2 linked regions of the Homo sapiens genome follow. The protein of the gene in region 1 interacts with the protein of each later gene in a pairwise test. Each region holds a gene or a part of one and is shown in the gene's direction. Other genes may lie near its edges. The genes, in order: CASP10 and RNF34.

Evidence for each region.
Region 2: the proteins of CASP10 (region 1) and RNF34 interact in a two-hybrid assay, tested with the Homo sapiens proteins (one study listed by BioGRID and IntAct).

What each region holds. Positions count from the first base shown.
Region 1 is NC_000002.12:201,217,564-201,221,380, forward strand, and holds part of CASP10 (caspase-10 isoform 1 preproprotein), read left to right. Parts: intron 1-24; coding exon 25-178; 3' UTR 179-3,817. UniProt on the Homo sapiens protein: Involved in the activation cascade of caspases responsible for apoptosis execution. Recruited to both Fas- and TNFR-1 receptors in a FADD dependent manner. May participate in the granzyme B apoptotic pathways.
Region 2 is NC_000012.12:121,406,301-121,410,117, forward strand, and holds part of RNF34 (E3 ubiquitin-protein ligase RNF34), read left to right. Parts: intron 1-2,160; exon of another isoform or gene 2,161-2,175; coding exon of another isoform or gene 2,176-2,409; intron 2,410-3,817. Other genes in the region: KDM2B (lysine-specific demethylase 2B), read right to left, coding at 2,176-2,409. UniProt on the Homo sapiens protein: E3 ubiquitin-protein ligase that regulates several biological processes through the ubiquitin-mediated proteasomal degradation of various target proteins.

The sequences.
Region 1 (3,817 bases):
ATTTTGTTTTCTTCTTTGTTGCAGACATGAAGACATCTTATCCATCCTCACTGCTGTCAACGATGATGTGAGTCGAAGAGTGGACAAACAGGGAACAAAGAAACAGATGCCCCAGCCTGCTTTCACACTAAGGAAAAAACTAGTATTCCCTGTGCCCCTGGATGCACTTTCATTATAGCAGAGAGTTTTTGTTGGTTCTTAGACCTCAAACGAATCATTGGCTATAACCTCCAGCCTCCTGCCCAGCACAGGAATCGGTGGTCTCCACCTGTCATTCTAGAAACAGGAAACACCGTGTTTTCTGACACAGTCAATTCTGATTTTCTTTTTCTTTTGCAAGTCTAAATGTTAGAAAACTTTCTTTTTTTTGGAGATAGTCTCATTCTGTCACCCAGACTGGAGTGCAGGGGGGCAATCACGGCTCACTGTAGTCTCGACCTCCCAGGCTCAAGCTGTCCTCCCGCCTCAGCTTCCCAAGTAGCTGGGACCACAGGTGTGTACCACCGTGCCCGGATTTTTTTTATTCTTTATTTTTTGTAGAGATGGAGGGATCTCACTTTGTTGCACAGGCTGGTTTCAAACTCCTAGGCCCAAGTGATCCTCCCACCTCTGTCCCCAAAATACTGGGATTATAGGCACGAGCCACCACACCTGGCCAGAAAACTTTCATTATTGAAGACTTGGATTGTAGCCTTGGTTTTGGATGTCTATTCTGAAGACAGAGTAATTGGCTTTGGTTTGTGCAGGTACTTTTTCTTTGAGACAGAGTCACTCCGTCACCTGGGCTGGAGTGCAGTGGTGGGATCACTGTTCACTGCAGCCTTGACCTCCCAGGTTCAAGCGATCCTCCCACCTCAGCCTCCCAAGTAGCTGAGACTACAGGTGTGTGTCCATGCACAGCTAACTTTTTATTTTTTTTGTGGAGATGGGGTTTCACTATGTTGCCTAAGCTGGTCTCAAACTCCTGGGCTCAAGCGATCCTCCCACCTCAGCTTCTCAAAGTTCTGGGACTACAGGCATGAAATACTGTGCCTGGCCTGGGGACCAGGTGCATTTTAAGGTTCCTTGGTGTTCAAAAACCACGTTCTTAGCCTAGATTGAGCTTAGATTGCCTCTCTAGACAACTACCCCTTAGTTATAATTCTGTGTCCCCTCTGCATGCCCTTAAACATTGGACAGTGAGGTCACAGTCCACCCACCCTCTCTCTGATCTCCCCCTTCCTAAGACTTCTCTTTTGCACATCTAGTGAGGTGAAAATTTGGTCTATGCCAGGCCCATTTCCTGCTTTTGTGTAAGGAAGGTGCTCACATAGGAAGTTTTTATTTGGTTAGAGACAGGTTTCCCTGTAGGAAGATGATGGCTCATTTACACTCAGCTGCTCTGCAAGCAGAAACTTTACAACCTGATGTCATATTCCATTTTGGACTGGGTGCGGTGACTCATGCCTGTAATCCCAGTACTCTGGGAAGCCAAGGCAGGCAGATCACTTGAGGTCAGGAGTTCGAGACCAGCCTGGCCAATACGGCAAAACCTCATCATTACTAAAAACACAAAAATTAGCCAGGTGTGGCGGCGAGCACCTGTAATCCCAGCTACTCGGGAGGCTGAGACAGGAGAATCTCTTGAATCCAGGAGGCAGAGGCTGTGGTGAGCCAAGATGACACAACTGCACTCCAGCTTGGGCAACAGGGCGAGACCTTGTTTAAAAAAAAAATTCAATATTGGGGTTGGAACATTTCAGTTGCCATTGACAGAACACCCAATTCAAATTGACTGAAGCAAAGAAGGGAATTTATTGCCTCTTTCACATTGAAACCCAGGAGTGGATAACACTGGCTTCAGGCAAAGCTTGAATCAGGACTCAATCTACAGGCCAGCACCTTTCTCTTGGCCGGATGTCCTCAGGGCTGGCAGATGCAGTAGACTGCAGTGGACAGTCCCCACCTTGTTACTGCTACTACACTTTGCTCCTCTGGCCCAAGGCATGAGGAGAGAGGCTGTGTCAGAAACTGAAGCTGTTCTCAGGATCACTGGGCTCTTCTTGGCAGAGGGGATGTCTGGCTTGCCTGAAGGGAGTGGCTCTGTAAGGACGCCTTGATGCTTTCTTCATTAAGATTTTGAGCATTTTTACGTACTTGAGCTTTTTTTTTTTTTTTTTTCAATTTCTAGAGGAACTTTTTCTCTGTTAATTCCTGGAACTGTATTTTGAATCCTTAAAGGTGAGCCCTCATAGGGAGATCCAAAGTCCTGTGGTTAACGCCTTCATTTATAGATGAGGCAGCTGAGGCCTGGGGATGTGAACAACCTGCTCACAGTCCTCATTTACTGGATTTGACTTCAGCCAGGTGAACTGGAATGCCTTGGGGCGTGGAAGGGCATTAGGAGTGTTTCATTTGATATGTGAATGCTCATAAAAAAATGTCAAGGAATGAAGAACAACAACTCTCAGTGGTGCCTGCATTTATAATTATTTATGTGAAAGTCAAATTCATGTACAGTAAATTTGTTATAAGAATATTCACAAGAACACTGTTCTGATATCTCTGATTGTCATGTGGATTTGAATGTAGCTTGACAGAGGGAATGTCTAATCTATATTGACAGGGCAGGAACACCGTCATCTTAGACAAACACCGCCACTTTAAGTTCCAGTTCCCTTTCTAGCCTCATGCATTTCAAGGAAATCACTTCTTTTCTAACAGCGAGCAGCCAGAAAGAGAAGAGAGTAAAATACAGATAAGACAGCTCTGGCATAGAGGGAGGTGGGGGGGTGGGGGAAGTCTCTTGGGTAACTGCCAAACTTTGCCTTCATACAATGGGTTCCAGGAAAACAATGAGCCTTAATAAGCACATTCCTTTCCCTTCAGGTGCACTAAGTGGGGAAGCTAAAAGCAGACTGGAGGGGGGTGGGGTGTACCTACAGCTGCAGAAATATTGTATGGGAACGGACACACAACTCTCCCTCCCAGATAAGCACAGCAAAGAGACATAGAAGCAATCCAAGCCTCTGATAAACTCTCCCACCCTAAATCCTTAAAAACTCTTAGTCTGTAAGTGAGTGGGCTCTGACCTAACTCGGCCAGAAGCCCCTTTCAAATTTGTTTTCTCTAAAATAAACCTGTCCTTGGCTGTCAAGCCACCTTTCATGTTTCTTTCCTCTTTCTTTAATTCTTACACATGTGTCAGGATGATCTCCCAAAACCGTGTTCATAACAGTCAGGGCCAAAAGCTAGTGGTCACAGTCCTTGTCCAGTTGGCAGAACTGACATGTGAAGGCAAGTGAAGGATGGTGAGATACTGAGGAAAGAGCAAAGGATCTGGAGATCAAAGCCCTGCATTTCCATTTTGTCCTGATTCCTTTGCTCAGAGACACTAACTAAATCAAGCTAGCTTTTTTCAGCCTTGTCTGTAAAGTAGAGAAAACATTAGCTGTTGGGAAGACGAAAAAGAATGTGTCCTATGTGTGCATCTATTTAAATCTAACTGTGCTGAGGTGCATATAAATGCCTTTAGGTGGTAGGGTCTTCCGGTTGTAACTGCAACAGAAATAGCAGGACTTAAGTTCCTTTGTGCGTAATTCCAGCTGACTTTATTAGCGGCAACTCAGCACTAGCATTACCCCTGACATACTCTGAGTAAGATCTAATTCTTCCCTCACTGGTTCGTGATGTCTACCGCAGCAGAAGGCCAGCTCTTGACTCTGAGTTCAGTTGGACAAAATGCTGTTGATAAAACCTCCTGTCAGGCCTCTGAGCCCAAGCTAAGCCATCATATCCCTTGTGACCTGCACATATATATCCAGATGGCCTGAAGTAA
Region 2 (3,817 bases), on another chromosome or scaffold:
TGTTTGAGACAGACTCTTGCTGTGTCGCCCAGGCTGGAGTGCAGTGGCGTGATCTCAGCTCACTGCAGCCTCCGCCTCCCATTTCAAGTGATTCTTGTGCCTCAACCTCCCCAGTGGCTGGGACTACAGGCACTTGCCACCACGCCTGACTAATTTTTTGTATTTCAGTAGAGATGGCGTTTCACCACGTTGCCCACGCTGGTCTCGAACTCCTGAGCTCAAGCAATCCGCCCACTTCAGCCTCCCAAAGTGCTAGGATTACAGGCGTGAGCCACCGCGCCGGGCTGGTGTTAAGTTTTTAAATACGATACCTGGTTTTTAACTGATATAAGCCAGGCAGACCATGGTCCTATGGTGGCTCTACTGAGAGCAGCTTTGGCTTAAGAGAGTGGGTAGGAAAGGGATTAGACTATCAAGAACAAGTCATTTATTTTTAGTAATCACTGATGACTAGAAAATAAACTCCAAACACAGGTGAATTCTCTGAGCTTGGAGTTTTGTGCTAGGCATAGGCAGACAGTTGCCTCATTCTCTTATTCTCTATGTTGTTTTAAACTACATTCATGGTCAAGAGAGGAAATTTAGCTATCTTCACGATTATCGTTCTTTTTTAAAAATATAATTTCAACTTTTAGATTTGGGGGTACACGTACAGACTTGTTACATGGGTATATTGAGTGACGCTAAAGTTTGGGGTACAGTTGGTCCCGCCAGCAGGTAGTGAACACAGTACCCAACAGTTAGTTTTTCACCCCTTGTTCCTTTCCTCCCTCCTTCCCCCTCCCCCCAGATTATTGTTCTTTCTAAACTGTTAGAAAAAGGGTTATACTTCTTACATACCACTTGGATGCATGTGGTATAACCCATGGAGTTTTGCTGCCAACTAAGGTCCCCAAGTAGGTCATGAAAGCCCAGATCATGGCTTGCATTTTGAAAGTTCCAGACTTTTCAGAGATCTGGCTTTGGGCTTTATTCACGGAGGAGTAACTGTAGGGTTTTTTTCCCCCAATGAACAAATAATGGATGGTGACCCTTCCATAAAGAAGGCACCACTTTGGAATTGAGGCCAGTGAATTGACTGCAAATTCAGAAGCCAAAAGGGTATGCCTAGTATACTGTCAGAAGCCAGAGGTGGGGGTATGCCTAGTATACAACAACTCAGTGAATTGACTGCAAATGCAGAAGCCAAAGGCATATGCCTAGTATACAACAACTCAGTGAACTGACTGCAAATTCGGAAGCCCAAGGGCTACGCCTAGTATGCTGTCTTTCCAGGAATTGAGTTTTCTCAAAATCTAGGAGGAAATGGAGTGGTTTGTAGAAGATGCTTCAATCTTACTATCAGTATGGAAGCAATGAATGAATAAAAGAAAAATAAAGGAATACAGGCTAATTTAACTGGAGGAAGATCTTAAAGTATAGGGAAGACAGAAATGGAACAGGAAAGAACATGAACTTAGGTCTCTAAAGCTTTTAAAAGGAGGGTGCAGAAGAGGGATCCTTGTTGGTTATGACCCTACCGGATATGGTAACTGGGTTCCAAGGAAATATAACAGAGGCAGAGTGTGAAGAGCTCAGAAAATAGATTGGCATATGTTCCCCCCATCCCTTGTCCCCCTCTCCACTGTAAGAGCTCAGATTCAATAAACCCTTGGGGAAATTGTCTTTTAAATAGTTCTCCAATTGCTTTTATAGGTTCTGTCAAGTCATAACAGAAAATGTGGGCCAAGCGTGGTAGCTCATGCCTGTAATCCCAGTGATTTGGGAGGCTGAAGCAGAAGGATCCCTTGAGCCCTGGAGTTTGAGATCAGCCTGGGCAGCATATCAAGACCCCGTCTCTAAAAAAATAAAAATAAATGGCCAGGTGTGGTGGCTCACGCCTGTAATCCCAACACTTTGGGAGGCTGAGGCAGGCAGATCACCTGAGGTCAGGAGTTCGAGACCAGCCTGGCCAACATGGTGAAACCCCGTCTCTACTAAAAATACAAAAAATTACCAGGGTGTGATGGCAGGCACTTGTAATCCCAGCTACTTGGGAGGCTGAGGCACAAGAATCACTTGAACTCAAGAGGCAGAGGTTGCAGTGAGCCAAGATCATACCACCGCACTCCAGCCTGGGTAACAAGAGTGAAACTCTGTCTAAAAAATAAAAATAAAAATAAAAATAAATAAAAACTAGAAAATGTGTACAGATTTAAGAGGGGAAAGATCAGTATAGGACACTTCAAGCACTGTTAGGTGAGTGTCAAGGTGACAGTTGTAGGTAGAGATGCCTTTGCCCTGAGGAGGCATGCAGAATAAATTTCTGAAATTTATGAGAAAGTACAGGAAGATGAAACATACTAAAGGAGAGCCAGGTAGATGGAGTCCAGGCTTGGAAGGATTTATCTTCTGGATGGATTCTTCATCCTGGAGGTGAAGAAGGACAAAAACACTTTGAACAATGGCTGCTTTTGATAGACCCAGAAATCACTGACTTTCTCCTCATATTGGGAGATTTCACACAAGAAAACGTGCAGAGGAGTTAAGGTGGGAAATAAAAGTTGGGGCCCAAAGGCAAAGAGCAAATAAAATCAAGGAGAGCACCAAAGTCCAGCAAAAGTTACAGGCCAATCTGTGGTAAAAAGGAAAGGGATTCATTGAAGAATCAGATTGTTAAAAACTCAGGTGACCCTTTCTTTTTTTTTTTGAGATGGAGTCTTGCTCGGTCACCCAGGCTGGAGTGCAGTGGTACAGTGGCGTGATATCTGCTCACTGCAACCTCCACCTCCCAGGTTCAAACGATTCTCCTGCCTCAGCCTCTCGAGTAGCTTGGACCACAGGCGTGCACCACCATGCCCGGCTAATTTTTGTATTTTTAGTAGAGACGGGGTTTTACCATGTTGGCCAGGCTGGTCTCAAACTCCTGTCCTCAGGTGACCTGCTGGCCTCGGCCTCCCAAACTGCTGGGATTATAGGCATGGACCACAACACTTGGCCAAAACTTAGCTGACCCTTTCTTAAAGGATTGGGTAAAACCAAAGTGGGATGCAAAATACTACATATCCCACAACAGAAAAACATGTAGACAGGTCTTGGGGAGTATGTTGCCGAGGCATTAGTTCCAGAACTCTAGGGCCACAGGCTTCCAAAGTAACCACAGCCCTTTCCACTCAGGAATTTGTGGAGGGTGATGTCCCAGCTGAAACAGTGTAGGCAGGAAGAAGACATCTTCCCTTTGACTGAGCAGGTCTTAAGCTTTTAACCTGGCCTGTATATCAGAATTACCCAGGGAGTTTTCAAAAAAATTCTGGTGCCCAGGCTGCACCACAGACCAGTGAAATCAGAACCTCTGGGCCTGGGACCCCAGGAATCAGTATTTTTAAAGACTTGCCTGGTGAGTCCAACATGCAGCCAAGGCTGAAAACCATTCTCTTAAGGGCAGTTTCACAACCCTAGGCAATTCCTTAGCAAGAAGTACTGACAGCAGCTACGAAGGTACAGGACTAAAACACCTGTTTCACTGAAGGGCAGCGGGGGTGGGTGTTACCTGGCACTTCAGTGCTAAAATGAATGTAAAGAAATTATGTTCATGGCCAGGCGTGGTGGCTCATACCTGTAATCCCAGCACTTTGGGAAGCCGAGGCGGGCGGATCATCTGAGGTCAGGAGTTCGAGACCAGCCTGACCAACATGGAGAAACCCTGCCTCTACTAAAAATACAAAATTAGCCGGGCATGGTGGCAGATGCCTGTAATCCCAGCTACTAGGAGGCTGAGGCAGCAGAATCGGTTGAACCTGGGAGGTAGAGGTTGCGGTGAGCCAAGATCGTGCCATCG